Regions from separate parts of the Homo sapiens genome. Here all the other regions are linked to region 1. The links come from fine-mapping of genetic effects on gene expression. A gene starts in region 1. Each other region holds a variant in brackets. All regions are shown on one strand. Distances are between the middles of the regions. Region 1 holds the start of BTBD6 (BTB domain containing 6). Region 2 overlaps BRF1 (BRF1 general transcription factor IIIB subunit). Region 3 has its middle 180 kb from the start of LINC02691. Region 4 overlaps BRF1 (BRF1 general transcription factor IIIB subunit).

Region 1 (7,346 bases):
TCAGGTTTTCTTCTAAGCAGATGCCATCATTGGCGAGACGGCAGCACGGCCTAAAGCAGCGGCTTAGAGGAAGAAGGCAGGGCCCTGGGAGCCCCAGCAGCCAAGGGAGGCCAGCCAGGCTTGCGGGTGTGGGGTGGCTGCTCCACGGGCCATCGGAGTCTTTAAAGACTGCACAAGAGATGCATTTTAAGAGAAAAAAAGCAAACATTTCCTTAAATACCAATGCTGTTTCTGGTTGTGATCTCTCCATCTCAGGTGAATGTGTACGTGCTTGGAAAGACGTTTCTTCTCTTGGCAAGAGAGCTCTGCATCAATGCGCCGGCCATAGGTAGGCATCTGGGTGAGATGCTGGGGTGTCCGGCAGGCTGCTGTAGGGACCAGCGTGCCAAATGTCCTTTGAACAGTGGAGGGAAATCCTGTCCAAGCATGGGACCCCTCAAGGTAAGAAATGTTTCTTAAAGCTGCTAGGAGCTCAGTAATGTGGGGCCTTATTTTCTAAGACACAGTCTCGCTGTTGTCCAGGCTGGAGTGCAGTGGCACAATCGTAGCTCACTGCAGCCTCAAACTCCTGGCCTCAAGTGATCCTCGTGCCTTCGCCTCCCAAAGCACTGGGATTACAGGCATGAGACCGCACCTGGCCTGGGGCTTGCTTTCTGCTGCAAAACCAGAAGGCCTGTTGTCAGTGCCTGTCAGGTGGCAGGAAGGTGTAGACAGGGAAACAAGTGCTGCGTGCTGGGAGCATCTTGTGTGGACAAGGTTTAAGGGACACACCTGGCTCCAGGTGCCTCTGGACAGATGGGGACAGTGGGGCAGCTCCTGGTTGTGCTTTCCAGCCACAGCCCTCTTTTGTGGTTTTTCTGCCACTTTTGTTCTGTGTTGTGTGCGAGTTTGTGGAACTCCTGTATGCCTTTCTTGATGTGTGTTAGGTGTAGGGTAAGTCCTGTCTCTCCCTCGAGGCAGCAGCAGTGTTCATGCATGCAGAATCTAACCTAGCGGAAAAGTCTAGAAGGAAAGGATCAAAACAGCACTCACTGCCCGATGGTTCTGACCTACCCTTTCTTTACCAAGCAGATGACTGGTTTCCATGGCCCGCTTAGAGGCCCCTTTCTTACTTTGCCTGTTTGCATCTAGGAGCGTATGTCCTTTGGGTAGAGAAGCACCAGGTGGGGCTGGGTCACCAACAGGACTGAGCAACACGGGCTGCAGCAGCAGAGGGGCACCGGCTGAGGCTATACACTCGGCCCATGCCCTCTCCCAGGTGCCAAGAGGGGCCATCCCTCTTTTCGGGGGTCATACAGGTTTTCCAGAAAACAACTGCCTACAGGGTATGCAGAGTGGGAGGAGAGAGACAAGGGGTGGGAGAGCCTGTTTCACCCTATAGTCCACTCCTGCAACAGGCTGTCCCGCAGCAGTGTCACAGCTAGTGACAGTCCCCAGGGTCCAGAACGCTGGGCCCAGCAGAATGCTCCCCCGACAGTCTGTTCATAGGGTAGGACTCTGAGGTGCTAGTGATGCATTAGGACATAGAGACAACCAGGCACCTGGTGTTTCCTAGGGTGGCCCAGAAGCCAGCCAGCAACCCAGGGGACAGATGGGCTTCACTGGGGCGCAGTTTGCTCCTAACCACATAGCATGTTCAGCATGACAGGTTTTCTCCTCGGGATGGGAGGGAGCTGTTCTGTTGCATGAGAAAGAGAATACCCCACTGTACAACTGCTGTAGTCATTTACTGACACGTGGGTGTTATTTTAGGCAACCTTTATTACAGAAGTCCACTATTTTAAGTGACTTTTTGCCAATTTTAGATTTGAAGGGAAGGTCTCAAGTTAAGCTTGGAACCACTTAGAATCCAAGAGGGTAGCAGGAAGATCCAACCCCTCAAAGCAGGTGGCATGGGTGCCACTGGGAGGGGATCTGGGGCCTGTCTTGAGCCGTAAATCTTCCTCCACCTGAGACGTGCACCCCACTGTACCAGAGATGCCTAAGACTCCAATCCCTGGGTTCTGGCTGTGTGGAAAATGTCTCTACACAGTCAAGCTTCAGCTGACTACATGTCAAAGAGAGACAAAGTTAAGAGCAGCCTTTCATGGTGTCAAGAAGCAGTTAGCATCTTGACTTCCCCTCCACTCACTCGCTGACCTGCTGCAGCCTCCCCGGGCACCTCAGGCATAGAAAATGAGCTCAGGGATCTGCCCACCCTGGACCCCAGTCCCGTTGGTGCTGTCCGAGGAGCACTGGAACTGGAAGGCCACCTTTCCACACTGCACTTCCGTCATCCCCTCCTGCCCAAAGTAGCTGAGTTCGCTGCCGTCCAGGACGGCACTGGCCGTGTAGAAGGTGTCTTGTTCAACCTGGACCGGGTGTTCAAACCAGACCGGGAAGGTGTTACTGGATCCGTCTGACATGAACTTGGTCAAGTTCTGAGCCAGAACCACCCCGAGCCGCTTGAGCTCAATCTTCACGCTGTACTCAGCCTTCCCAGAGCTGGAGCCATACAGGCCCAGCCCTGCAATAAATACCCTTCTGTCCACTGCAAACTGGATGCTGTCGCAGCGCCCGCGGTACCGCCACTGGTTGCTGCGGTAGGCAGAAGACTGGAATCGGTGGCACCTCTGCGGGGCGAGGCCCTTCCTCTTGGTCAGGGGAAAGTCCAGGCGGGGCTTGTTGGTGGCCGTGTACCACAGGAAGATGCTGTGGGTCTCCTCCAGAGTCAGGATGTCTGACTGGGCAGCGCCGTTGGCAAACTCCTCTAGGGTCATGGTTGGAATTCGGACCAGATAGAGGGCTCGCCCCAGAACATGCCTCTTGTTTCGTGGGGTGATTGGCAGCCCCTGCCTCTTGCACTCCGCCTCGGCCCAGTTCAGGACGGCCTCGAAGACCACCGCCTCTTTGGTGTTGAGGGCCTCCCGAGTGACAATGATCTCCAGCGTCTGCCGGTCTATCTCACAGAAGCCTTCGGACCGTAGGGCCATCTCGGCCTGTGCGTCAATGACCTCCCAGCAGCGCTGCGTCAGCTCGGGCTCCTCAAACAGCCGGCTCTGGGACAGCAGGACGCAGGCGTTCTTGGCTTCCAAACTTGTCTCCAGAAAGTTGACACAGGCTTTTGCCAATGCTGGGACGATGTACTTCTTAGCAGCGTACAGAGTGGCCAGCACCGTGTCGGCTTCCAGATCGATCTCATCACTGTACATGTACCTAGGCGAGGCAGGGCCCGCGTCAGGGGCTGGCTCCCAAGCACCCATCGCGGGGCTGGGCCTGGGAGAGGAGTCCATCAGCTCCTGTGTGCTTCCCTTCAGAAGCCTCCGGAGGCCGCCTAAAACGGACCCACCCGTCCCTCCCCAGTAGAGTGGACTTACTTTAAGAGGATCAGAAAGGCTGCGGGCTCCACGTCTGGAATGTGAATTTCAGATTTGACTTCCGCCAGGTCTCCGTAGAACATGGCATAGAAGACGGAGCTGCCGACAGCCAAGACGTACTGGGAGGAGAAAGCGCCGCCGTGAGCCTGGCTCTCCCGCAGGCTGCGTGTCAGCCACACGGCGGACGGGGCGGACGGGGCACGCGTTCCGAGAGGGGCCGCCGCTACCCACCTTGTGGGCGGGCACCGTCCTGGTCGCCCCCGGGGGCCCCACGACGAAGTGCACGTCGGCCATGAGCTCGTTGTTGAACATGAGCGCGTTCCTGCAAAGGTAGAGGCACGGGCTGGGGGCGTGGGCGCGCGCGGGCGCGGGGGCCGCGGGGCACGGGCTCACCTCTCGCGCAGCGTGGGGCGGCAGCACCGCCAGCCGGGGCTCTCCTGGTGGTTGTTGCCGAGTGTGGGCGGCGCGGGCGCGGGCGGCGGCGGCGCTGGCGCGGGGGCGCTGGGCGGGCTGCGCGGCCCGGCCTTCCTGCCCACGGCGGCGCCGGCGTTGCTGTTGGCTAGGTCCGCGGCCGCGGCGCTGGCGGGAGCGTAGAGTTCCGCCGCCATCTTCGCGGGCGGGGCGGCGGGGGCAGCCTCGGCGCCTGTGGACGCCGCGCCCCGCGCCCTCGCGCCGCGCCGGGGCCTCGGGAGCGGCTCTGCAAGCAAAAGCAAGGAGGTCAGGCACTGAGCGACGCGGCCGTGCAGGCAGGCTAGGGGCAGCAGCATGGGCGGCGGCGGCGCTGTGACCCGCGGGGCTGCCACCCGCTCCCCTGCCACCCCCGCCCCTGCGACCCTGCCCGAGCCCAGCCTAGCGCAGCCCGGCCAGGCCCGGCCGCGGGGGGCGCCGTCCCGCCCGCCCGCCCGCCCGAGCCCGTACCCGCCGCGGCGCCGGTGCGTCACGCTGCGTCAGGGCCGCGCCCCGCGCGACGTCGCTGCCTCGCGGCCCCGCCCCCAGGCCCGACATCCTCGAAGCTGCTCGAGCTTCTGCCCAGCAACCGGCGCGAGCCGCGCGCTGTGCAGAGGTAGCCGTGGAAGGCGGCTCCCGGCGCTGGCAGGCGGCCGCCCCCAGACCCGCAGTGCCATGCGCAGGTGCTTGCGCCCGTTCTTCAGTTAGCGATCTTTTGGTTAGGAACGCAGGTGGACCTGCTTGTTTGGCCATTTGCATTCCGGAGTCTGCCTCTGGCCGCGGCCTGTGGGATGGTCGTTGGGCTTCCTCGTTCGTTCAGATGCTTCGCGATTTAGCTTGCTACGGACGCCAGCAGCCAGCGCTTGCAGAGAGCGCGGTCCACTCTGCTCTGAGGGCTTTACAGGGGCAGGCGCTGCTATTTCCCGGCATTTTCCTCGAGGAAATAGGCACAGAGAGGTTAGTCGCGCGCTGAAGGTCACACAGCCGGCGGGTGGGCAAGTCAGGATCTGGCCCTGGGCCTGCAGCCCTGGAGCTTGGGCCCCAGGGCGCGCCCTGCCTCTGTGGCTCTGCCTGTGGATCGCAGTCGCAGGCTCGCTCCTTGTGGGGCCTCTAGCCTCCCGGCCTGGGGCTAATCCTGGGAGGTGCGTGGCATGGGGCACTGGCTTTGCTGATGAGGAGACCAGACTTCAGAGGCCGTGTCACCTGGCCTGGGCCGCACAGCTGGTGCATGCCAAGCTCGCGTGCAGACGAAGCTCCAGAGGCCTGGCTGTCAGGAGGGTTCCTCCCCGAGGACACACACGCAACCTCCTGGACCGCCAGGCTTTAGACTTTTAAAACTTCCATATGCAGGAAACCCCACAGGACGCAGCCAGCATCTCGGGTCATGGGTGCACCTGTCACCGCAGTCCTGGGCTAAACAGTGAACAGGAGCTCTGTGTCTCTGTGGTCGTTACAGTTGTAGTGAATGTTCCCTGGGAGAGTCCTCTTCAGAAGATATTTGCGGTATTTTCAACAAAGGACTCTCCAGGATGGAGGAGCAACTACAAGTCAGGAAGGAAAAGGCTGACAACCCAGTTTTTTAAAAAACGGGCAAAGGACGTGAACAGACACCATGCAATGGCCCAGAGTGCACAAATCATCATTTCTCCCAGGAATGGGGTGCCCGAGCCCCCAGGCGGCTGAACTTGAGACTTGTCACGTAGTGTTGGTGGAATGCAGAGCAGCTGGAGATCACCTGCTGCAGGTGGGTGCGTAACTCCGCACGGCCAAGCCGTTTGGAAAGCTGTAGCATATGCATGAGAGTCCGGAAAGTTCCGAGAGAAAGTGTGTGGATGCACCCGCCAAGGACACACCCACCGAGGCCACAGCTGCGATTTCATAGTGTGGGACCCCACTGGCAAAGACACGCTGGCTGCTGTGGCCGTGGTTTCTGTCCCAGCCGTCTGTTTCCATAGAAAAAGGTAACGGGCATAAGCAGTTTCCAGGAGAAATACAAATGGCCAGAGTGGAGACAGCCTACATGTCCATCAGCAACAGAAAGGATCAGCAGGTTGTGGTGGGTCCATTTGGGGAATGCAGTGAGAAGGAATAACTTACAGCAGCACACAAGACCTGGGCGACAGCTGTCTCCGGGGGTGCCAGGATAGAATTGCTGAGCCGCCAGAGGTAGTCAGCGTCTTGATCTGCATGGTGGTGTGGAGCATGTGAATAATAATTTTCATCCTTAGAAAGAAACCACCCTTTGCACTTTGATTTTTAAATATGTTACAGTGTAGGTTGGGCGCGGTGGCTCACGCCTGTAATCCCAGCACTTTGGGAGGCCAAGGTGGGCGGATCACTTGAGGTCAGGAGTTTGAGACCAGCCTGGCCAACATGGTGAAACCCCATCTCTACTAAAAATACAAAAATTAACGGGCACCTGTAATCCCAGCTATTCGGGAGGCCAAGGAAGGAGAATGGCTCGAACCAGGGAGGCGGAGGTTGCAGTGAGCTGAGATCATGCTACTGCACTCCAGCCTGGATGACAGAGCGAGACTCCGTTGACCAGGCTGGTCTTAAACTCCTGGCCTCAAGTGATCTACCTGCCTAGGCCTCCCAAAGTGCTGGGATTACAGGTGTGAGCCACCGCGCCCAGCCTATTCTTTTTTGTTTGTGATAATGGTCATCCTAATGGACATGAGGTAGTGTCATGTGGTTTTGATTTGCATGTCCCTGATAAATAATGATGTTGACCATCTACTCATGTGCTTGTTGGCTATTTGCATGGCGTGTTTGGAGAAACGTCTGTTCAAGGGCTTTGCCTTTTTTTTTTGAGACAGAGTCTTACTCCGTTGCCCAGGCTGGAGTGCGGTGGTGAGGGTGCACTGCAACATCCGCCTTCCAGGTTCAAGCGATTCTTGTGCCTCAGCCTCCCAAAGAGCTGGGATTACAAAAGTGCAGTTTGCCCATTTTTAATCGATTTTGTTCCTGAGTTGGAGTTTTTTGTATATTCAGGCTGTTAACCCCTTATGAGATAGATGGTTTGCACATAGTCTCTTCCATTCTATAGGATATCATTTCTGTTAATAGATTCCTTTGCTGTGCAGAAACTTTTTAGTTTGAGGTCATCCCATTTGTCTATTTTTACTTTCGTTGCCCTTGCTGTTGGTGTCATGTTCAAGAAATCATTGCCAAGACCAATGTCGTGAAGTCTTTCCCTTTGTTTTCTTCTAAGGGTTTTACAGTTTCAAGTCTGTGTTTGGGTCTTGCATCGGTTTTGAGTTAGTTTTTGTGTATGATGTAAGGTAAGGGTCTATCTTTATTTGCAAGTGGATATCCAGTTTTCCCAGCGCTGCATATTGAAGAGACCATCCTTTCCCCATTGTGCAAGAAGTTCTTGTCACCCTTGTTGAAGGTCATCTGTCTGTCATTGTCATTTCTGGCCCTGTGCTGTCCTGTCCTGTCCTGTCCTGTCCTGTTCTGTTCTGTTGGTCTGTAGGTCTGTCTTTATGTCAGCACCATACTGGCTGTTGGACTTTTTAATTCTTTTCTTGACAGTGGTAA
Region 2 (7,346 bases), 30 kb before region 1:
CCTGCCAGGTTTGGTGGAAATCTGTGAATGTAGCTTCCGACTGTTACTGTTTTGGTGAAGTCTTGATTGCCTTTCTTAGAAAACTGCAAAGATGGAAATAAACTCACGGGCCACCCTTCCTGCCCGCAGCGACAGTCATGTTCTGCGAGGACTCTGTCTCCTCTGCTTGCCTCCGTGCACCCTGCGAGGTCACAGGCCCCTCCTTTGGTTTGCTGGGGACACGCTGAGACTGTATTTAGAGAAAGGGTCTGGGAGAGAGAAACTCCTGCCCCTTCCCCCTGGGATGGTTGCCAAGGGGTTGAGACAGGCACCCCATGGAATGTGGGGAGCATCTGCTCCGGGTCCACCAGCAAGAGACGTTGAATGCCAGTGTGTTTTGATCTCTGTTTTTAAAATCTCAGGCCTTTTGGGATGATTTCTTTGATGTTCTGAAGCGACGGTTCTGAAATGCCGCTAGGTGGGGCTCTCTTCATTGACCTGATGAGCCTTTCGTTTGGGACGCGTTTCTCAGGGAAATTCTTTTTCTGTTCTCTTGGTCTGTTTTTCCTAGTATAGCACGCATAGTAAAGTGCATGAAATGTGCTGACCTTCCATGAACCACCTGACAAATCCACATGAGTCAGGCCTGCAGCAGCTCAGAAAGCACCTGCTGCCCACTGGCTTCACTTGGTTTTCTGCTTCATACAGTGGGAATCATATAGAAAGGAATTTAAAAAAAAAAAAAAGACTTGTAATTTTTAGAGCATTTTAGGTTCACAGCAAAATGGATCGGCAGAGAGTTCCTGTAGACTCTGAGCACCTCCCACCACACAGCTTCCCCTGACCCCGTCAGTGCCCCCCTCCACTGTGGTGCACGAGCTGCAGTCAGCCGCCCCACATCGACTCATCAGGATCACGCAGGCTCTGTCCACACACCCGGGCTCAGGATCACGCAGGCTCTGTCCACACACCCGGGCTCAGGGTCACGCAGGCTGTATCCGCACACCTGGGCTCAGGGTCACGCAGGCTGTATCCACACACCCGGGCTCAGGATCACACGGCCTCCACCTCACACCTGGGCTCAGGATCACGCAGCCTGTATCCACACACCCGGGCTCAGGGTCACACAGGCTGTATCCGCACACCTGGGCTCAGGATCACGCAGGCTGTATCCACACACCCGGGCTCAGGATCACACAGGCTGTATCCACACACCCGGGCTCAGGGTCACGCAGGCTGTATCCACACACCCGGGCTCAGGATCACGCAGGCTGTATCCACACACCCGGGCTCAGGATCACACGGCCTCCACCTGCACACCTGGGCTCAGGATCACGCAGCCTGTATCCACACACCCGGGCTCAGGGTCACGCAGGCTGTATCCACACACCTGGGCTCAGGGTCACGCAGGCTGTATCCGCACACCTGGGCTCAGGGTCACGCAGGCTGTATCCACACACCTGGGCTCAGGGTCACGCAGGCTGTATCCACACACCCGGGCTCAGGGTCACGCAGGCTCTGTCCACACACCTGGGCTCAGGGTCACGCAGGCTCTGTCCACACACCTGGGCTCAGGGTCACGCAGGCTGTATCCGCACACCTGGGCTCAGGGTCACGTGGGCTGTATCCACACACCCGGGCTCAGGGTCATGCAGCCTCCACCTGCACACCTGGGCTCAAGATTATGCAGCCTCCACCTGCACACCCAGGCTCAGGGTCACGTGGGCTATATCCGCACACCCGGGCTCAGGGTCACGCGGGCTGTATCCGCACACCCGGACTCAGGATCACGCAGCCTTCACCGCACAGCCGGGCTCAGGATCATGCAGCCTCCACCTGCACACGCAGGCTCAGGATCACACAGCCTCCACCTGCACACGCGGGCTCAGGATCATGCAGCCTCCACCTGCGCACGCGGGCTCAGGATCATTCAGGCTGTATCTGCACACCTGGGCTCAGGATCACGCAGCTTCCACCACACACCCAGGCTCACGCTGGGCGGTGCGTGTTCTATGGGTTTAGATGAATGCGTAGTGACGGGTAACCACTGTTACAGTTTCATACAGAGTGCTTTCAGAGTCCTAAAGATCCCCTGAGCTCCACCCATTCATCCCTCCTTCCCCAGCCTCCAGCAACCATTGATCTTTTCACCGGCGCTTGGTCATGTGGTCGTAGAGCTGGAGTTGCACACTGTGCATCCTTTCTCTGTGCAGCCTGTCACTCAGCCATGGGCATTTAACTGTCCTCCAGGTCTCTGCACAGCCTGTGGCCTCTTTCTCTTTAGTGGTGAGTAATATTCCACCGCCTAGGTGCGCCACAGTTGATTTATCCTTTCACCTGCTTGCTGAAGGGAATCTGGGCTTGGGCGATTATGAGTGAAGCTGCTGTAAACGTCACGTGCAGGTTTTTCTGAGTGATTGCTGGGTGGTGTGGTGAGAGTATGCTGAGTTTTGTAAGAAACTGCCAAACCCTTTTCCAAAGCACCTGAGCCATTTTGTGCTCCCAGCAGCAAGGAAGGAGAGCTCCTGTGGCTCTAGTCGTCCGCATCTGGCTTGCCAGTGTCTGGGCTGGAGCCGTTCTAGAACGTGCTGTTTTGGAGCGTGTAAGTAGTTTATTCTTTTATTGCAATGTAGTATTTCATGGGATGAATAGACCACAGTTTATCTCCTTTTCCTGTTGATGGACGTCTAGGGTGTTTCCATTCTTGGCTGTGCACAGGAAGCTGCTGTGCGTGTTCTTGCACCTGGTCCTTCGGTGGACACAGGTGCCCCCTCCGCTTGGGAGTTTACCTGCGAATGGGTGTCTGGGTCCTGAGGTCTGGGTGTGCTCATCATTAGATAGGGCCACAGGGTTTTCTGTAGTGCTTGTACCAGTTCATGTTCCCACCAGGAAGCAGTGTAGGAGAGTCCCAGTGGCTCCGCAGCCTTGTTCACATGTGGCATCATCAGCCTTTCCAGTTG[TAG/G]TCTTTCTGGTAGGTGTGTAGCACACTCGCTGCGGCATTAATTCGCTTTCCCTGGTGAGTAATTATGGCCACAACCTTTGCTCATGCTTCTTGGCTGTTGGGACGTCCTTTCTGTGTGAAGTGCCTATTGGCGTCTTTTGTGCTTTTTAAAAACTGAGTTGTCTTTTTCTTACAGATTTGTAGAGTTCTTTATATATTCTGGATTCGAGTCCTTTGTTGGATATACATGTTTCGAATCCTCCTCCCACGTCTGTAGCTTGTCTCACTCTCTTAATGTTGTCTTTTGACGAACAGAAACTTCTGAATTTTTTTTTTTGAGACTGGGTCTCACTCACTCTGTGGTCCGGGCTGGAGTGCAGTGGTGCAGTCGATGCTCCTTGCAGCCTCAACCTCCCAGACTAAAGCCGCCCTCTCACTTCAGCCTCCCGAGTAGTTGGGATCACGTGTACATGCCACCACATCCACTCATTTTTAATTTTTTTCTTTGACATGGAGTCTCACTCTTTTGCCAGACTGGAGTGCAGTGGCGCGATCTCGGCTCACTGCAGCCTCTGCCTCATGGGTGCAAGCGATTCTCCTGCCTTAGCCTCCCGAGTAGCTGGGATTACAGGTGTGCACCACCATGCCCGGCTAATATTTGTACTTTTTAGTAGAGACGGGGTTTCACCATGTTGGTCAGGATGGTCTCGATCTCTTGACCTCGTGATCTGCCCGCCTCGGCCTCCCAAAGTGTTGGGATTACCGGCATGAGCCACTGCGCACGGCCAATTCTTTTTTTTTTTTAAATAGAGATGGGGGTCTCACCATGTTGGCCAGGTTGGTCTTCAACTCCTGGGCTCCAGTGATCCTCCCACCTCAGCCTCCCAAAGTGCTGGGATGACAGGTGTGAGCCACTGCACCCTGCCAGAAATTTCTTAATTATAATGAAGTCCCAGTATATCAGTTTTTATGGTTAGGGCTGTTTGTGACTTGTTCAAGAAATTCTTATCTACTCCAAGGTCTGAAGATACTCTTGTGTTTTCCTCTGGAAGCTTTATTGCTTTATACTTTACATGTAAGTGGTGATATGCCTCAAATCTTTTTTTTTTTTTTTGGAGACAGGGTCTCGCTCTCTTGCTGCCCAGGCTGGACTGCAGTGGCAGGATCATGGCTCACTGCAGCCTCAACCTTCCAAGCTCAAGCAGTCCTCCTACCTTGGCTGGGCCTACAGGCTTGCACCACCACACCTGGCTGATTATTTTAGCAGTTGGATCTCACTATGTTGCCCAGGCTGGTCTTGAACTTCTGGGCTCAAGTGATCTACCTGCTTCAGCCTCCCGAAGTGCTGGGATTACTACAGGCATGAGCCACGGCACACAGCCTGAGTTTACTTTTAGAATTCATTTGTTGGAAGGAAGTCTAAGGAGACTCGCAGGCTATGGCTAGCTAATTAGTAGTTGGTTTCTATGTGAATATCTGTTTATTAATAACATATTTGGCCAGGCACAGTGGCTCATGCTTGTATCCCAGCACTTTGGGAGGCGGAGATGGGTGGATCACAAGGTCAGGAGTTCGAGACCATCCTGGCCAACAGTGTGAAACCCTGTCTGTACTAAAAATACAAAAAATTAGCTGGGTGCAGTGGCATGTGCCTGTAGTCCCAGCTACTCAAGAGGCTGAGGCAGGAGAATCACTTGAACCCGGGAAGCAGAGGTTGCAGTGAGCTGAGATCGCACCACTGCACTCTAGCCTGGGTGACAGAGCGAGACTCCATCTCAAAAAAGAGAAAGAAGATGGTAAAAAATAACTTACTGCAGTCATCATAAGCCCCCATTTTAGTCCTTTTGGGCTGCTGTAACAGAACACCATAGACCAGAAAGGCAAAACAGCAGGAATGTGTTTCTCACACTTTTGGAGCTGGAAAGTTTGAGCTGGAGATGGGGGAGACAGTTGCCTCCTCCCCAGCTCTCTAGTGAGGGCCGCCTCTCAGCTCCTTCTCACTGTGGCCTCCTCCCCAGCTCTCTAGTGAGGGCCGCCTCTCAGCTCCTTCTCACTGTGGCCTCCTCCCCAGCTCTCTAGTGAGGGCCCCCTCTCAGCTCCTTCTCACTGTGGCCTCCTCCCCAGCTCTCTAGTGAGGGCCGCCTCTCGGCTCCTTCTCACTGTGGCCTCCTCCCCAGCTCTCTAGTGAGGGCCCCCTCTCAGCTCCTTCTCACTGTGGCCTCCTCCCCAGCTCTCTAGTGAGGGCCGCCTCTCGGCTCCTTCTCACTGTGGCCTCCTCCCCAGCTCTCTAGTGAGGGCCCCCTCTCAGCTCCTTCTCACTGTGGCCTCCTCCCCAGCTCTCTAGTGAGGGCCCCCTCTCAGCTCCTTCTCACTGTGGCCTCCTCCCCAGCTCCCTAGTGAGGGCCCCCTCTCGGCTCCTTCTCACTGTGGCCTCCTCCCCAGCTCTCTAGTGAGGGCCGCCTCTCGGCTCCTTCTCACTGTGGCCTCCTCCCCAGCTCTCTAGTGAGGGCCGCCTCTCGGCTCCTTCTCACTGTGGCCTCCTCCCCAGCTCTCTAGTGAGGGCCCCCTCTCAGCTCCTTCTCACTGTGGCCTCCTCCCCAGCTCCCTAGTGAGGGCCCCCTCTCGGCTCCTTCTCACTGTGGCCTCCTCCCCAGCTCTCTAGTGAGGGCCGCCTCTCGGCTCCTTCTCACTGTGGCCTCCTCCCCAGCTCTCTAGTGAGGGCCGCCTCTCGGCTCCTTCTCACTGTGGCCTCCTCCCCAGCTCTCTAGTGAGGGCCGCCTCTCAGCTCCTTCTCACTGTGGCCTCCTCCCCAGCTCTCTAGTGAGGGCCGCCTCTCGGCTCCTTCTCACTGTGGCCTCCTCCCCAGCTCTCTAGTGAGGGCCGCCTCTCAGCTCCTTCTCACTGTGGCCTCCTCCCCAGCTCTCTAGTGAGGGCCCCCTCTCGGCTCCTTCTCACTGTGGCCTCCTCCCCAGCTCTCTAGTGAGGGCCGCCTCTCGGCTCCTTCTCACTGTGGCCTCCTCCCCAGCTCTCTAGTGAGGGCCCCCTCTCGGCTCCTTCTCACTGTGGCCTCCTCCCCAGCTCTCTAGTGAGGGCCGCCTCTCGGCTCCTTCTCACTGTGGCCTCCTCCCCAGCTCTCTAGTGAGGGCCCCCTCTCAGCTCCTTCTCACTGTGGCCTCCTCCCCAGCTCTCTAGTGAGGGCCGCCTCTCGGCTCCTTCTCACTGTGGCCTCCTCCCCAGCTCTCTAGTGAGGGCCGCCTCTCGGCTCCTTCTCACTGTGGCCTCCTCCCCAGCTCTCTAGTGAGGGCCCCCTCTCGGCTCCTTCTCACTGTGGCCTCCTCCCCAGCTCTCTAGTGAGGGCCGCCTCTCGGCTCCTTCTCACTGTGGCCTCCTCCCCAGCTCTCTAGTGAGGGCCGCCTCTCGGCTCCTTCTCACTGTGGCCTCCTCCCCAGCTCTCTAGTGAGGGCCCCCTCTCAGCTCCTTCTCACTGTGGCCTCCTCCCCAGCTCTCTAGTGAGGGCCGCCTCTCAGCTCCTTCTCACTGTGGCCTCCTCCCCAGCTCTCTAGTGAGGGCCCCCTCTCAGCTCCTTCTCACTGTGGCCTCCTCCCCAGCTCTCTAGTGAGGGCCGCCTCTCAGCTCCTTCTCACTGTGGCCTCACGTGGTAGAAGAGCTGGGCTAGTTCTCTGGGGTCCGGTTTTTAAGGGCACTGAGCTCATCATTAGTGCTCTGCCTCCTGACCTAGTCTCCCGCAAAGGCCCTGCATCTTAATACCATCCCCGTAGGGGATAGGATTTCAACATAGGAATTTTAGGAGTCAGACATTCTGACCATAGCAGCCCTGCATGCTGGGAACACGAGCTGGTGCCTGTGGGGTCGGGGCTTGGGATCGAGTCCCAGCCTCAAGTGTGTGGCCTCAGAGAGTACCTCTCTCTTACCTTTTATTACAGAATTTTCAAACATACAGCAGAGAGCTGGTAGGTAAGGAGCCGTAGCTTCAGCGGGTCCCCTGTCAGCTGACTCTGTTTCCCTCTGGGCCTTGCTGGGCCGCGGGGACGGTCTGTGCTGGTGTGTCTGGCTGGTGCTGCACATGTGCAGGTGGCAGCTGGCACGATGCCCTTTCTGTCCATTCTTTTGGGGTCTTGGCTTGGCCCAGGCCTCAGCTCTGGGGACAGTGACCAGCCTTCCACGTCAGCTCAGCTGGACTGCAGGCCTCAGAGCTGTATGAGCTCTAGGCAGGTGGCCTTAGGTGCTCAAGGTGGCAGGGCCACAGCCGGGCTGGGGGCTCCATGTGATGCTGCTGACTGCCAGGGGCCTGGCAGTGTGAGGCTTGACCTGGACCTGCCAGACTGTGTACCCTGGCCACCGGCTTCCTTGGGATGCAGGCTCAGCAGCTGCCCACCTCTGGCTGCTGGTCATCATTAGTGAAGTT
Region 3 (7,346 bases), 850 kb after region 1:
TTACTTCCAAGATACAATGAGGGTAATGGCATTGGGTAAATACACCCACTCCAAAAGGGAGAAATCCACCAAAACAAAGGGGTCACAGGCCCCATGCAAGTCCAAAACGCAGCAGGGCAGTCATTAAATCTTAAAGCTCCAAAATAATGTCTTTTGACTCCATGTCCCACATCCAGACCACACTGACGCAAGGTGTGGGCTCTCAAGGCCTTGGGCATCTCCAGCCCTGTGGCTCTGCAGGGTACAGCCCCCTTGGCTGCTTTTATGGGGTGCCGCTGAGTGCCTGTGGCTTTTCCAGGTGCGTGGTGCAAGCTGTCAGTACATCTACCATTCTGGGGTCTGGAGGACAGTGGCCCTCTTCTCACAGCTCCACTAGGCAGTGCCCCAGTGGGGACTCTGTGTGGGGCCTCCAACCCCACATTTCCCCTCCACACTGCCCTAGTAGAGGTTCTCCGTGAGAGTTCCAGGCCTGTTGCAGACTTCTGCTTGGACATCCAGGCATTTCCATACATCTTCTGAAATCTAACCAGAGGCTCCCAAACCTCAGCCCTTGCCCTCTGTGTACCCACAGGCTCAACACCACATGGAAGCCACCAACACTGAATGGCTTGCACCTTCTGGAGCCATCATCTAAGACATATCTGGGGCCCTTTGGCCATGGCTAAAGCTGGAGTGGCTAGGATACAGGGAGCAGTGTCCCAAAGTTGTACAGGGCAGTGGAGCCCTAGGCCCAGCCCATGAAACCATTCTTCCCTCCTAGGCCTCCACGCCTGAGATCGGAGGGCTGCCGCCAAAGTCTCTGAAGTGCCTTTTAGACATTTTCCCCATTGTCTTGGCTGTTGACATTCAGCAACTCATGCAAATTTCTGCAGCTGGCTTGAAGTCCTCCCCAGAAAATGGGTTTTTCTGTTTTTAAATCTTTTGAGGAGTCTCATGCTGTCACCCAGGCTGGAATGCAGTGGTGTGATCTTGGCTCACTGCAATCTCTGCCTCCTGGGTTTAAGTGATTCTCGTGCCTTAGCCACCCAAGTAGCTGGGATTACAGATGTGCACCATCACGCCCAGCTAATTTTTGTATTTTTAGTACAGATGGGGTTCCACCATGTTGGCCAGGCTGGTTTCAAACTCCTGGCCTCAAGTGATCCACCCGCTGCAGCCTCCCAAAGTGCTGGAATTACAGGCATAAGCTACTGCACCTGATGGGGATTTTCTTTTCTACTACATGGTCAGGCTACAATTTTTCTAAACTTTTATGCTCTGCTTCCCTTTTATTAATAAATATAAGTTCCAGTTTTAGATAATCTCCTCGCTCATGCATATGACCATATGTTGTTAGAAGTAGCCAGGCCACATCTTGAATGCTTTGCTGCTTAGAAATTTCTTCTGCCAGATACCCTAAATCATCACTGTCATGTTCAAAGTTCCACTGATCCCTAGAGCAGGGTTACAACACCACCAGTCTCTTTGCTAAAGCATAGCAAGAATGACCTTTACTCCAGTTCCCAATAAGTTCCTAATTTCCATATGAGACCTCCTCAGCCTGGACTTAACCGTCCATATCACTATCAGCATTTTGGTCACAACCATTCAACAAATCTCTGGGACGTTCCAAACTTTCCCTCCTCTTCCTGTCTTCTTCTGAGATCTCCAAACTCTTCCACCCTCTTCTCGTTACCCAGTTCCAAAGCTGCTTCCACATTTTCAGGTCTCTTCTCTTCTCTTCCTGGTACTTCCTGGTGCCAATTTTGGCACTGCTATAAAGAACTACCTGAGTGCTCACTTTGGCAGCACATATACTAAAATTGGAATGGTACAGAGAACATTAGCATGGTCCCTGTACAAGGATGACAAAGAAAAATTAAAAGGAAAAAAATTTTTAAAAAAGAACTACCTGAGTCTGGGTAATTTATAAAGAACAGGAGTTTAATTGATTCCCAGTTCTGCAGGCTGTACAGGAAGCATGGCTGGGGTGCCTCAGGAAACTTACAATCATGGCAGAAGGCAAAGAGGAAGGAGGCACATTTTACATGGCCAGAGAAGGAGGAAGACTGGGAAGCAGGAGGTGCAACATACTTTAAAATAACCAGATCTCATGAGAACTCACTATCGTGAGAACAGCAAAAGGGAAATCTGCTCCCATGATTCAGTCACCTCCCACCAAGCCCCTCCTCCAACACTGGGGATTATAATTTGACATGAGATTTGGGTGGGGACACAAATCCAAACCATATCAGTGGGGACTTGCGTGGGCAGCACAGGGTGAGTATGGGGCCAGGTGCACATGTGTGGGCAGCACCGGGTGGGTATGGTGCCAGCTGTGCACATGTGTGGGCTTTGCAGCCAGGCATCCTGGGTTTGAATCTCGGCTTCACTGCTCAGAATTCCAGGACTGGGAGCAAGTCAGGTAAACTGCCCACCTCCTTTCCTTCACCTATGAATAGGGATATATGTAATTTGCATCATCTTTATCGAGTTACTGTGAGTGCCTCATGGGTGGAGTGCCTGATGAGGGCCCCCTGTCGTCACTGGTGATGGTTTTGTTATTATTGTTATTGATTTGCTGGTGGCTGGAGGCATTAGGCACACTGCAGACAAAGGCTGAAGAGGCTGTTTTTTAGTCTGTCTCTGTCGATCTGTTTAGTTCCATCCTTTAGTGAATCTCCACAGCTCTCCCATGTGGTGTGCTTCTTGAGCCCCTGTGAGTCTGCAGTCACCTGCCTTTTGCCCAAGCCTGTGCACGACATCTGGGCTGATGGTGGCATTGTTGAGCCACAACAAAGCCCCATCCACAGCAGCCACAGGGCTGTGTCCCGTTAGAACTAATTATCTCCAGACCACATTCTTCAGATAAGGAGCATTGTTCTTTGACAGCCGAGGATGGAAGTGGTACCTAACATGCAACTACACTGGCTGTGAGGCTGGAGGCCTCAGACCGACTCCTCTGTTGCCTGGGAGATGGACAGGGAGGCCATGGCAGCACGGAGGCAATAGAGGGCTGGGCCTAGACACTGACTGAGAAGTTGATTGGCAGGAGCTGGAGGGCAAAGGTCACAGGAGGAGTGGACTGGGTCTTTGTGCCACCTGTGTTCTCAGCACCACCTCCAGCATCCCCACCCCCACCCCCATCACTCCTGCCATACTAAGAGCTCTCCACCTGCCTACCCTGAGTGTCCTGAGACCCAGGGGCATTGCTTCC[A/G]CATCCTGCCACAGGCCATGTGCTTGGATTGGGTGCTTTTAGAGAGAAAGCTGGCGTCAGGCTGAGCTAACTTCCTTTGGATCTTAGATGCCGTGTTAGATCAAGTTTTTCAGAGCAGATGCTGAGCCAAAGATTCAGGTGCAGGTGATTTTCCGAGAAGCTGCTCTCCGGGGAGAAGGGGTGGCGGGAGCAGCGCAGGGAAGATGTCTTACTCTGTTTTGTGTTGCTATAAGGGAATATCTGAGCTTGGATAATTTATAAAGACAACAGGTTTATTTGGCTCACAGTTCTGCAAGCTGTACAGAATTATGTCACTGGCATCTGCTCGGCTTCCGGTGAGGGCCTCAGGTTGCTTCCACTCATGATGGAAGGTGGAAGGGGAACAAGAATGTCACATGATGGGAGAGGAAGCAAGAGAGATAGGAGGAGGTGCCATGCTCTTTTTAACACCAGCTCTTGTGTGAATTAAGAGTGAGAACTCACTCACTACCATGGGGACAGCCCCAAGCCATTCATGAGGGATCCACCCCCATAACCCAAACATCTCCCACCAGGCCCCACCTCCAACATTGGGGATCACATTTCAGGTGAGATTTTATTCAAACCATATCAGAAGGCGCCCCGGCATCAGGATTTGCCATGACAGTGAAAATTGAAGCTACCACGCCCTAAGACCCAGGTTCCAGAACTCACAAGACACCCCTTCTGCCTCATTGGATTGGCCAAAGAAGCCATGAGGCCAGCCTAGAGTCAGGTGGAGGGAAGTGGACTTCCTGGGTGAGTGGCTGCACCCACAGGGAGAGGAGGAGCTGTCCGGATTTATTTGTCACAGGCCACCAAAGCTCTGCCGCCTGTCTCCACTGACACACTCCACACTACTTAACGCTCCACGGCCTAAGTCTCTCAGTTGTTTTGACCTAGTCCTTCACAGCCTGTTCATTTGCCTTTTGGTGGACTAAAATTCATTCTCTATTTATTTATTTAAAAGGAACTTCAGTAGACAAGAGTTCCTCCATTTGTGAATATTTTCAGAAGCGCTTTTTTATGATTCAGCATGAGTAACAGCTTTATTCTGTTCTAAAATTTTACTCTGATATAAAATTCTTGGTTCATACTTTCTTTTCCTGGAGATTTTGCAGGCATTATTTCCCTCTTCTCTAAGATGAGGTGTTGCCGTAGAAAATCTGAAGCCAGCTTGGACTTCTCTTCTCATGTCAGGGCCTTCATATTTTTGCCTCGGTGCCAAACAAATTCTTCGTGTTTGACCCCCAAGTCTCAGTGCTGATCAAGTGCACCAATTTTTGTAGAAACATGATATACCCTCTTAATCCATAGATTTCATCTTTTTTAGTTTCACCACATTTTCTTGAATTATTTGAATTATTTTTCTTTTATATTTGATTTTCTCCTGCAAGGCCACCAATTATGTGTGTGTTGTGTCGGCATTTTGTGTTTTCCTTTTCTATCCTTTCCTCTAAACCATCGCAACTCTTTATTCTTTTCTGGTGAATTTTTTTCACTTTTTCCAAGCTTGACTCCACATCCCTGGCAATGGTTTTAGGAGAATCTATTCTCTTTTTCTTTGATTCTAGTGTGGCCTTCATTTTGTGATTTTTAAAATTCTGCTTCTTTTCTTGAGCTCTGCCTGCCTATTTTTGAAATCTCCTATCATCTTTTTGTTTCTTATTGAAGTCTGTCTTGGCTTTTGTTTTACGTGAAAGACATTTTCATTTAGATCGTTAAGTTTCTGATTGTTAAGAAGGTTTCCATCATCTTCCCCAATGCGAGGATTTTTTGTGTCTTTGCTTTTTACCTTTTCTATTATTTTCTTCCTTTTTCTTGTAATGTTTTCAGTGGACACTATTTTCATTCCTTTCTGTCATTGTTTATTTGTGCATATAAAGTGAGTTCTTCCCGAAACAACTGTCTGCAGTGTGTGGGAGGGCAGTCCTGGGGCGGGGAGCTTCCCTGGCTGGCTGTGCAGCCCCGCAGCCTGGCCTCCGCCTCGCCCTGGAGCAGCGAGGTCACTCGGCAAGGCCTTCACACTCTCAGGGGCTCAGAGTTGTGGGTGCCTCCTGTTTTCCATGAGGATAGAATTCCCATCTCTGTTTCTCATCCTCGGTGACAAAAAGAGAGACAACTTTACTAGAGGTTCACTTTAACAAGTAGCGGACACTTTTTGCTTGGTCGTTTTGTGTGCATGTGTGTTTGTTTCATTTTGTTTGCTACAACAAAAGCAACAACTAAAGAAATAAATACCCTTAATTTCATCACTCTGGAGATCTTTCACAACATTGACGACTCAGACGTCGTCGGTCTTCTCTCCCGGCCTCAGCTGCGGTCAGACTCCAGGTGAGCTGCACCTGGCCGTCTCATTTACGCGGCCTCTCTGGCATTGGATAAGAACTCTATGGCCAACTTACCCAAGAGGTGGTCTGCAATATCTTTGAATACATTAAGACCTGGTGGTCTTATAGAGAAATCTGTAATGATTCATTCACTCGTTGCTACAGACCAAATGTTTCCTATGTGGAAGCTCTGACCCCAATGCGATGGTATTTGCAAGTGAGGCCCCTGGGAGCTGATGAGGCTTAGAGGAGGTCATGAGGGCCCGTGACAGAACATCCTCTCTCTGCTATGAGAGGACACAGCAAGAAGGAGGCTGTCCGGGGACCAGGAAGCAGCCCTCTCTGGAGCCAACCCTGCTGCCACCTTCACCTTGGACTCCCAGCCTCCAGAAATGTGAGGAATGAATGTCCACTGTTAAGCTGCCCCATCTGTGTTGTTTTGTTGTAGTGGCCTGGATGGACTAAGACATTCATTCAATCATTAATTTATTCAAAGATATTGCAGACCACCTTGTGGGTAAGTTGGCCATAGAGTTCCTATCCGATGCCAGAGAAGCAGTGTAATTGAGACGGCCAGGTGCAGCTCACCTGGAGCCTGACCGCAGCTGAGGCAGGGAGAGAAGACAGGCAATGAGCGGGCCAGCGAAGGAAGCTTTCTGTTTCTTTAATGCAGATGAACCAGCGAGGAGAGAAAGGGCCAGGGCAAGGCACTGCTGAGCCGGGCGGGCTGCTGCTCCGTGCTCACTGGGGAATGTTGTTCAGGTGAGTCAGGGCCTCACGCCATGGAGGACATTTACGCAATCCCACCTGACAATGGCTCCCGAAGGAAGAGACAGGTGCACAGCGAGTACTGCAATTCAGAAATTCACGGAGCAGCAATTCTGAAAAGCAGCGGGGAGAGCAGGGGTCAGAGCAGGGCCAAGGACAGCAGCCGGGACACAGGTTTTTTTGGGATCTCTGGACTGGCAGCACGCCAGGCCACAGAACCCCTGTGTGGACAGTCTGTGCCACCCCCGGCCTCCTCATTTCTGAAGATGAGCTCTCCCCGGCACCCGGGACGCCCACACCCAGGGTCACTGCCAAACAGCACCACCGTCTGAATCTCAGGACCTTGCCCTGGATGCCGGCTCACTCCCTCACACACGTCCTGTGGACTTCACTCTAAAACGCTCCCAGAAGCTGGCCGCTGTGTCCACCTCCACCACGGACCCCAGATGCAGCCCTCCTCCTGTCGCTGGGCAGACCTGCGGCCAGGGTGTCCTCGCTGGACGTGCACTGCCCGTCCTGTTTCAGCTGCTGTCCCCTCAGCAGCCAAAGGGGCCCTGGCAGTGAGATCAAGGTACTTCCCGCCCCTTCCTCCCAAAACTCCCCACTCAGATCTACAGCAAAACCCAAGTTCTTCAGTGCCTCGGAAGACCCTTGGTCCTACCAGGTCACCACCTATCCCAAGATAGATTCCAGATGACCTGGTGGGTGGACTAACGCATTTTCAAGGGCAAGGTTGATTACACTTGGTTTTTGTTTTGTTTTCTTTAGAGACAAGGTCTCGCTTTGTCACGCAGGCTGGAGTACAGTGGTGTGATCACAGCTCACCAGAGGGAGCAGCCTCACACTCCCAGGCTCAAGTGATTCTTTTACCTCAGCTTCCCAAAGTGCTGGGATTACAGGTGTGAGCCACCGTGGCAGACCGCTTGTAGTTTTTGTTTATTCTGTTTTAAGAGCTGCTGTAGAACCACACCTACCCCAGCCCCTCCTCTGTTTGCTGTGACACCTCAATCCTTGCACCTGAAATCTGCGATGTG
Region 4 (7,346 bases), 47 kb before region 1:
CGCGCCTGTGGACCCCCGTGGCGTGCGTGGACTTCCTCGACACACGCGTGGGCCAGGGCAGCCAGCACAGGGAGGGTTGAAGAGAGCCTGGGGAGCCCAGAAGGCCCCTCAAGCTGCCCCTCACTGTCACTCTCTGTGCCTGCAGTTTTGTTTTCAGCAATGTCTGGTACTTAGAATCCGATTGCTGCTGCCCTTGGCCTTGGTGGTTACCGGGCGGATGCCCTAGGGCCACTCAGGCTGCTGCAGGCCTCGGAGGGGACGTTTCAGTGATGGGCAGTATTGCGGGCTGGGGATGGACCCCAGCCTGTGGAAGGAGCTGGACTGTGGCCAGTTTCAGGTGGTTGTGAATAGAGCTGCTAAAAGGATTCATTTGCAGCTCTCTGTGTGAACATACGTTTTCATTTCTCTGGGGAACTTAGCTGTATGTGTAACTCTATGGGAAACTGTCATGAACTGTTTTGTGATGTGGCTGTGCCATTATGCATTCTCACCAGTTGCCCCACATCTTCACCAGCACTTGGTGTTGTCGATGTTTTTATTTCGGTTGTTCTAACAGGTGTGTGGCATCTCATCATAGTGGTATTCTGTATTTCTCTACTGGCTAGTGATGTTCAACCTTATTAGGGTGCTTATTTGCCATGCCCGAATCCTCTTTGTTGAAATGTGTGCTCAAGTCTTATTTTTTTATTTATCTCGAGACAGGATCTCACTCTGTGGCCCAGGCTGGTGTGCAATGGCCCAGTCATGGCTCTCTGCAGCCTTGAACTCCTAGGCTCAGGCAATTCTCCTGCCTCAACCTCCTGAGTAGCTGAGACTACAGGTGCATGCCACCATGCTGTGATCATTTATTTTATTTTATTTTTAGTAGAGACAAGGTCTCTATGTTGCCCAGGCTGGTCTCAAACTCCTGGGCTCAAGTGATACTCCAGCCTTGGCCTCCCGAATTGCTGGGATTACAGCGTGAGCCACCACACCCTGACTCTCATTTTTTATTTGGGTTGTTTTCTTATTGTTGAGTTTTGGGAGTTCTTTGTGGATTGTAGTTACAAGCCCTTTGTTGTATATGTGATTTTCAAAGCAGAAGTTTTTTTTCTTTTGAGATGGAGTCTTGCTCTGTTGCCCAGGCTGGAGTGCAGTGGCTCGATCTCGGCTCACTGCAAGCTCTGCCTCCCAGGCTCACGCCATTCTCCTGCCTCAGCCTCCCGAGTAGCTGGGACTACAGGAGCCCACTACCATGCCCGGCTAATTTTTTTTGTATTTTTTAGTGGAGACGGGGTTTCACTGTGATAGCCAGGATGGTCTCGATCTCCTGACCTCGTGATCCGCCTACCTCGGCCTCCCAAAGTGCTGGGATTACAGGCGTGAGCCACTGCGCACGGCCTCAAAGCAGAAGTTTTAACTTTTTTTTTTTTTTTGAGACAGAATCTTGCTCTGTGGCCCAGGCTGGAGTGCAGTGGCACAATCTCGTTTCACTGCAACCTCTGCCTCCCAGGTTCAAGTGATTCTCGTGCCTCAGCCTCCCAAGTACCTGGGATTACAGGCGTGCGCCACCTCACTTGGCTAATTTTTGTATTTTTAGTAGAGACAGGGTTTCACCCTGTTCGTCAGGCTGGTCTTGAACACCTGACCTCAAGTGATCCGCCTGCCTCAGCCTCCCAAAGTGCTGGGATTACAGGCGCGAGCCACCGCACCTGGCCTAAATCTGTGGTCCATCTATGTTTTGTATAAGGTGTGCTTTGTAGGCTGAGGCTCATTGTTTATCTGGAGGTCCCCTTGTTTCAACACCGTTTGTTGAAAGACTGAAGGCCTTTGCTCCCTCGGCTGTGCTCACTGGGCCCCGTCCGTGCAGGTCTGTCTCTGGGCCTTGTGTCCTGCCCTGTTGATCAGGTGCCGTTTTCCTTTGTCAGCATCACACGCTTTTTTACTATACCTGTTATATTGTCCTGAAATCAGATATTGTGAGTCCCTCAACCTTTGTTCTTCCTTTTCAAAGTTGTTGTGGCTATTAATTTCCCTTTCTCTTTTTAATTTTAGAGTAAGTTTGTGCATCTCTGCAGGTCACATATTCTTACCTGAAATGCTTGGGACCAGAAGTGTTTTGGATACCAGAGTTTTCTGATTTTGGAATATCTGCATTATAATTACTGGTTAAGCATCCCTAATCGAAAAATCTGAAATCTGAGATGCTCCAGTGAGCATTTCCTTTGAGCATCGTGTTGATACTCAAAAAGTTTCATGTTTTGGAGCATTTATTTTTTATTTTATTTTTTTCTTGAGACGGAGTCTCGCTTTGCTGCCCATGCTGGAGTGCAGTGGCACTATCTCGGCTCACTGCAAGCTCCGCCTCCTGGCTTCACGCCATTCTCCTGCCTCAGCCTCCCAAGTAGCTGGGACTACAGGCGACCGCCACCACGCCCGGCTAATTTTTTGTATTTTTAGTAGAGACGGGGTTTCACCGTGTTAGCCGGGATGGTTTCGATCTCCTGACCTCGTGATCCACCTGCCTCAGCCTCCCAAAGTGCTGGGTTTACCAGCGTGAGCCACTGCACCGGGCCGTTTTGGAGCATTTATAATCTCAGATTTTTGGATTTGGGATGTTCAACCTGTACAAAAGTCCTGGTGGGGTTTTCATTGGAATTGCATTAAACCTCTTGATATATTTAGGGAGAGCTGACATTTTTTCTTTCTTTCTCTTTTTTTGAGACAGAGTCTCACCCTGTCACCCACGCTGAAGTGCAGTGGCGCGATCTGAGCTCACTGCACCCTCCGCCTCCCGAGTTCAAGTGATTCTGCTGCCTCAGCCTTCTGAGTAGCTGGGACTGCAGGCACACGCCACCACACCCAGCTAATTTTTGTATATTTTTTAGTAGAGACGGGGTTTCACCACATTGGCCAGGCTGGTCTCGAACTCCTGACCTCGTGATCCGCCCTCTTCGGCCTCCCAAAGTGCTGGGATTACAGGTGGGAGCCACTGTGCCCAGCTGACATTTTTTCTATGTTGAATCTTGTAGTCCATGGAACACAGTGTATGTTTGCATTCATTTAGATTTTCTTTGATATAGTCTGTCAGTGTTGGGTAGTTTTCAGCATACAGCTTCTGGACTTTTTTTTTGAGATGGAGTCTCGCTCTGTCACTCAGGCTGGAGTGCAGTGGTGCAACCTCGGCTCACTGCAACCTCTGCCTCTTGGGTTCAAGCGATTCTCGTGCCTCAGCCTCCCAAGTAGCTGTGATTACAGGAGCCCACCACCACGCCTGGCTAATTTTTGTATTTTTAGTAGAGACAGGGTTTCACCATGTTGGCCAGGCTGGTCTCGAACTCCTGACCTCAAGTGATCCCCCCCCACTTCAGCCTCTCAAAGTGCTGGAATTATAGGCATGAGCTGCCGTGCCTGGCCCTCTGGACATTTTTTAGATGTGTACCTAAGCTCTATTAGGAGTTATTATAAGTGGAATTTTTTTAATTTAGTTTTCAACTCTTCATTGCTTGTTTATATAAATATGGTTGATTTCTGTGTGTTGTCCTGTTTCCTATGGCTTTGCTAAACTTACTTGTTCTAAGAGGTTTTTTTTTTTTTTTCTTTTTTTTTGAGCTGGTGTCTTGCTCTTGTTGCCCAGGCTGGAGTGCAGTGG[C/T]ACCATCTTGGCTCACTGCAATCTCCGCCTCCCAGGTTCAAGAGATTCTCCTGCCTCAGCCTCCCAAGTAGCTGGGATCACAGGCACCCGCCACCGCACCCAGCTAAGTTTTTTGTTTTTTTTTTTGAGACGGCGTCTTGCTCTGTCACCCAGGCTGGAGTCCAGTGGCACAATCTCGGCTCACTGTAAGCTCTGCCTCCCAGGTTCATGCCATTCTCCTGCCTGAGCCTCCCAAGTAGCTGGGATTACAGGCGCCCAGCACCACGCCCGGCTAATTTTTTGTATTTTTAGCAGAGGCGGGGTTACATGGATGGTCTCAATCTCCTGACCTCGTGATCCGCCCACCTCGGCCTCCCAAAGTCCTGGGATTACAGGTGTGAGCTGTTGCACCCGGCCGCAGTTTTTGTATTTTTAGTAGAGATGGGGTTTTGCCATGTTGGCCAGGCGATCCACCCGCCTTGGCCTCCCAAAGTGCTGGGATTACAGGTGTGAGCCACCACACCTGGCCCCTAAGAGTTTTTAATACACTCCTTGAGTTTTTTTTTTTTTTTTTTTTTTGAGATAGAGTGTCGCTCTGTTGCCCAGGCTGGAGTGCAGTGGCGCAATCTGGGCTCACTGCAACCTCCCCCTCCTGGGTTCAAGCGATTCTCCTGCCTCAGCCTCCTGAGTAGCTGGGATTACATAGGAGCCCACTACCATACCCGGCTGGTTTTTGTATTTGTAGTAGAGATGGGGTTTCACCATGTTGGTGAGGCTGGTCTTGAACTTCTAATCTCAAGTGATACACCTGCCTTGGCCCCTGAAAGTTCTGGGATTACAGGCGTGAGCCACCGCACCCAGCTTTTTTTTTTTTTTCTGGGACAAAGTCTCACTGTTGCCCAGACTGGAGTGCAGTGGTGTGATCACAGGTCACTGCAGCCTGGAACTTCTGGGTTCAAGAGATCCTTCCACCTGAGACTCCAGAGTAGCTAGGACTACGGGCATGCACTACCATGCCCAGCTAATTAAAAAAATTTTTTTTTGGTTGGGGAGACAGGGTCTAGGGTCTTGCTCAGTCACCCTGGCTGGAGTGCAGTGGTCATGGCTTACTGCAGTCGTAACCCCCTGGGCTCCAGTGACCCTCCCAGCTCAGCCTCCTGAGTTGCTGGTACTACAGGTGCGCCCTACTATACCCAGCTAATTTTTGTATTTTTCTTGTAGAGATGGGGTTTTGCCATGTTGACCAGGCTCGTCTGGAACTCCTGGGCTCAAGTAATTCTCCCGTCTTGGCCTCTCAAAGTTCTAGGATGACAGGTGTGAGCCAACGCCAATTTTTTTTTTTTTTTTTTTTTTTTTGTAGAGATGTGGTCTTGCTTTGCTGCTCAGGCTGGTCTCGAACTTCTGACCTCAAGGCATCCTCCCACCTTGGCCTCCCAGAGTGCTGGGATTAGCGGCATGAGCTGCTTTGCTCAGCGCCGGATGTTCTGTTGAGGGTTCCTGCTGATGCTTGCGTGGGATATTGGCCTGTAGTTTTTCCTGTAACGTCCTTGTCTTGGGTATCAGGGTTCTGCTCCTTATGGAATGGGTTGGGAAACGTTTCCTCTTCTATTTTCTGGAAGACATTATGTAGAGTTGGTGTTCTTTCTTTCTGAAATGTTTGGTAGAATTCACCAGCGTAGCCATCTGGTCCCAAAGCTTTCTTTCTCAGAAGATTCTGCACTGTGGTTTCGGCTTCTTTCATCACTGAGGTTCTAGTTATATTTAAGATGCTGTGTTTCACCTGGGGTGAATTAGCCGCTTGTGTTGAGGAATTGGTCCACTTGACCTAGTTGTTGAATTTGCCCAGAGAGTTGTTCGAAGCATTCCCTTATCCTTTTGATATCTGCGGGGTCCACAGTGGCCTCCTTTTTCCTTTCAGATGTTGGTGTTTTGTGTCTTTTTTTCCCTTTGTCTCTCTTGCTAGAAGTTGATCCGTGTTTTTGATCTTTTCTAAGAACTGGCTTGGGCTTCATTGAGTTTTCTCTCCTGCTCTTCCCTCCCCATCGTCTTCCATGCTCATACTCCCTGGGTATCTTCCTAGGACTGCTGGGCACAGAGTTTGCAGCTGTGTCACAGTTGCCAAGACTTGGATGTCTGTTGGGATGATAACAACAGTAATGAAAGCAAGTTGTCATGGCAGCAGACGCAGGGTTTCCCGGGCAGGCACAGTGTTAAGTGCATCCGGGCCTGGTGACAGCGCACTGCCCTCACTGTGCCCTGCCGGGGGAGGATGGTGGTGTGGAGCAGTGCAGAGCTGGAAGTCTGTCACCCGGGTGCTGTCAGAACAAGCTCAGAGCCAGCGCTGTCAGGTGGCCCCAAGACGCCTCTGAGCCCAGGCACACTCTCTGGAGGGAGGCGCAGGCCCAGCAACCAACTGTGGTGGTCCTGGGGGAAGTGCTGCGAGGCGGCGGGTTCTTAGCCCCTGGGGACCGGCGCAGGTGGTGCCTGGGCCGAGAGTGGGGAGGAGAGAGGGGATCTGTTGCTCTGGGCAGCCCCTCTGTCTCCCAGGCAGGCTCTCTAGGTGCCCACTTGGCATCCTTCCTCCCTCGTCACAGTGGTGATCACAGGGGGCTGGAAACCTTGGTGGCTTCTCAGTTTCCCTGGCACACAAGTAGGCCCCAGCCGCCCCTTCCTCCAGCTTCATCTTGAAAGCTGAGCTTTCTCTCTGAGCTGTCGTTTTCTAGTCCCAAGGCCACTGTCTTTCCTAGGTGTTTTGCCTATTAATTGAGAACTAAGCCTGATACAGCTTCGCAGTTTACTCTGGAATATTTAACTAAGGCATCAGGGCAGGTGACCAGAGGCCTCAGGAGAGTCCCCAGAGGGTCCTGACCTTGGAAGCCAGGCCCCACGGGGGAAACCACACTGGTGCTCCAGCGTCCCGGGGCACCCGAGCAGAGACTGTGCAGAGAGAAGGGTGGGTGAGGACTGAGGCTCAGCGTGGCTGGAGGGGCCAGGCAGACGGTGGAGTTGGGGGCCGTTGGCAGTGCCCTGAGGAGGCCGTCTGCTCCACTGAGGCAAGGCGGGGCTTCCCTGTGAGCCCACATCAGTGTCCTGCACTGTGTGTGCCCTGAGGCTTCCCTCTGCCAGCAGGTGATGGTGATGGCGCCCACACACCAGACATCCTGGGCTCCTGCTTGCAGGGGTCCCTCCTCGTCCTGTGCAAGGAGCAGCACACCTCAGTGTCACCAGAACTTGTGGGGGTGGGGAGCGTTTCCCGTAATCACAACTTTCAGTGGCTTCACAGTTAGAACTTCGAAGCTGGGGTGTCCGTGAGTGCTGCTGTTTTCCGTTTGGGGTCACGATGCAGCCGGACCTAATTTGTGACATGGCTGCATGTCACCTGGCGCTGGCCCTGGAGGGGGACATGGGTGGTGGAGTTGCCCTCGCCTGCTGGGAAGCTCCCTCTGCCTCAGAGAAGGATGTGACCGGCCAGCCTCTCCCTGCGGCCTGGGGTTCTGAGCATGCGCCTGGCCTCCTGGCGGGGCTCTAGTCCTGAGGGTGGAAGGCTCCAGGCTTCTGCCTCTGCTCCATGACCCCCAGAACCCTAAGTTGTGGCTGAAGGTGCCTGCTCTTAGGAAACGGGTGAATTCTGTCCCGTTGCCATCTGGGTGAGGGAGGAAGCTGCTGGTTAGCCTGCAGCGTGACACACGTCCTGTTTTCCGTAACCAAATTGTAATCACTACAAAACCAGCTCCTC

Evidence for each region.
Region 2: its variant is fine-mapped to the expression of BTBD6 in visceral fat (GTEx, PIP 0.95).
Region 3: its variant is fine-mapped to the expression of BTBD6 in tibial nerve (GTEx, PIP 0.97).
Region 4: its variant is fine-mapped to the expression of BTBD6 in lung (TOPMed, PIP above 0.99).

Annotation. Positions count from the first base shown.
Region 1 is chr14:105,245,489-105,252,834 of GRCh38, reverse strand. It overlaps BTBD6 (BTB domain containing 6), which reads right to left and starts at 4,302. Exons shown (of 4, transcript NM_001387567.1): 1 at 3,750-4,302; 2 at 3,588-3,678; 3 at 3,357-3,475; 4 at 1,742-3,195. The coding sequence starts at 4,123. The coding sequence ends at 2,163. It overlaps BRF1 (BRF1 general transcription factor IIIB subunit), which reads left to right. Exons shown (of 18, transcript NM_001519.4): 5 at 256-328. RefSeq lists enhancers at 2,305-3,094, 3,886-4,676 and silencers at 3,701-3,750, 3,951-4,510.
Region 2 is chr14:105,275,124-105,282,469 of GRCh38, reverse strand. All of the region lies in intron 2 of BRF1 (BRF1 general transcription factor IIIB subunit), which reads left to right. Among named protein-coding and RNA genes, the nearest start is that of BRF1, 22 kb to the left of the region's middle. The variant TAG/G (reference allele first, on the strand shown) is at 2,940.
Region 3 is chr14:104,395,475-104,402,820 of GRCh38, reverse strand. It overlaps the pseudogene RNU6-684P. Among named protein-coding and RNA genes, the nearest start is that of LINC02691, 180 kb to the right of the region's middle. The variant A/G (reference allele first, on the strand shown) is at 3,197.
Region 4 is chr14:105,292,924-105,300,269 of GRCh38, reverse strand. The region is part of intron 1 of BRF1 (BRF1 general transcription factor IIIB subunit); the gene reads left to right. Among named protein-coding and RNA genes, the nearest start is that of BRF1, 4.4 kb to the left of the region's middle. RefSeq lists enhancers at 448-527, 6,008-6,137, 6,778-6,897, 7,048-7,197. The variant C/T (reference allele first, on the strand shown) is at 3,632.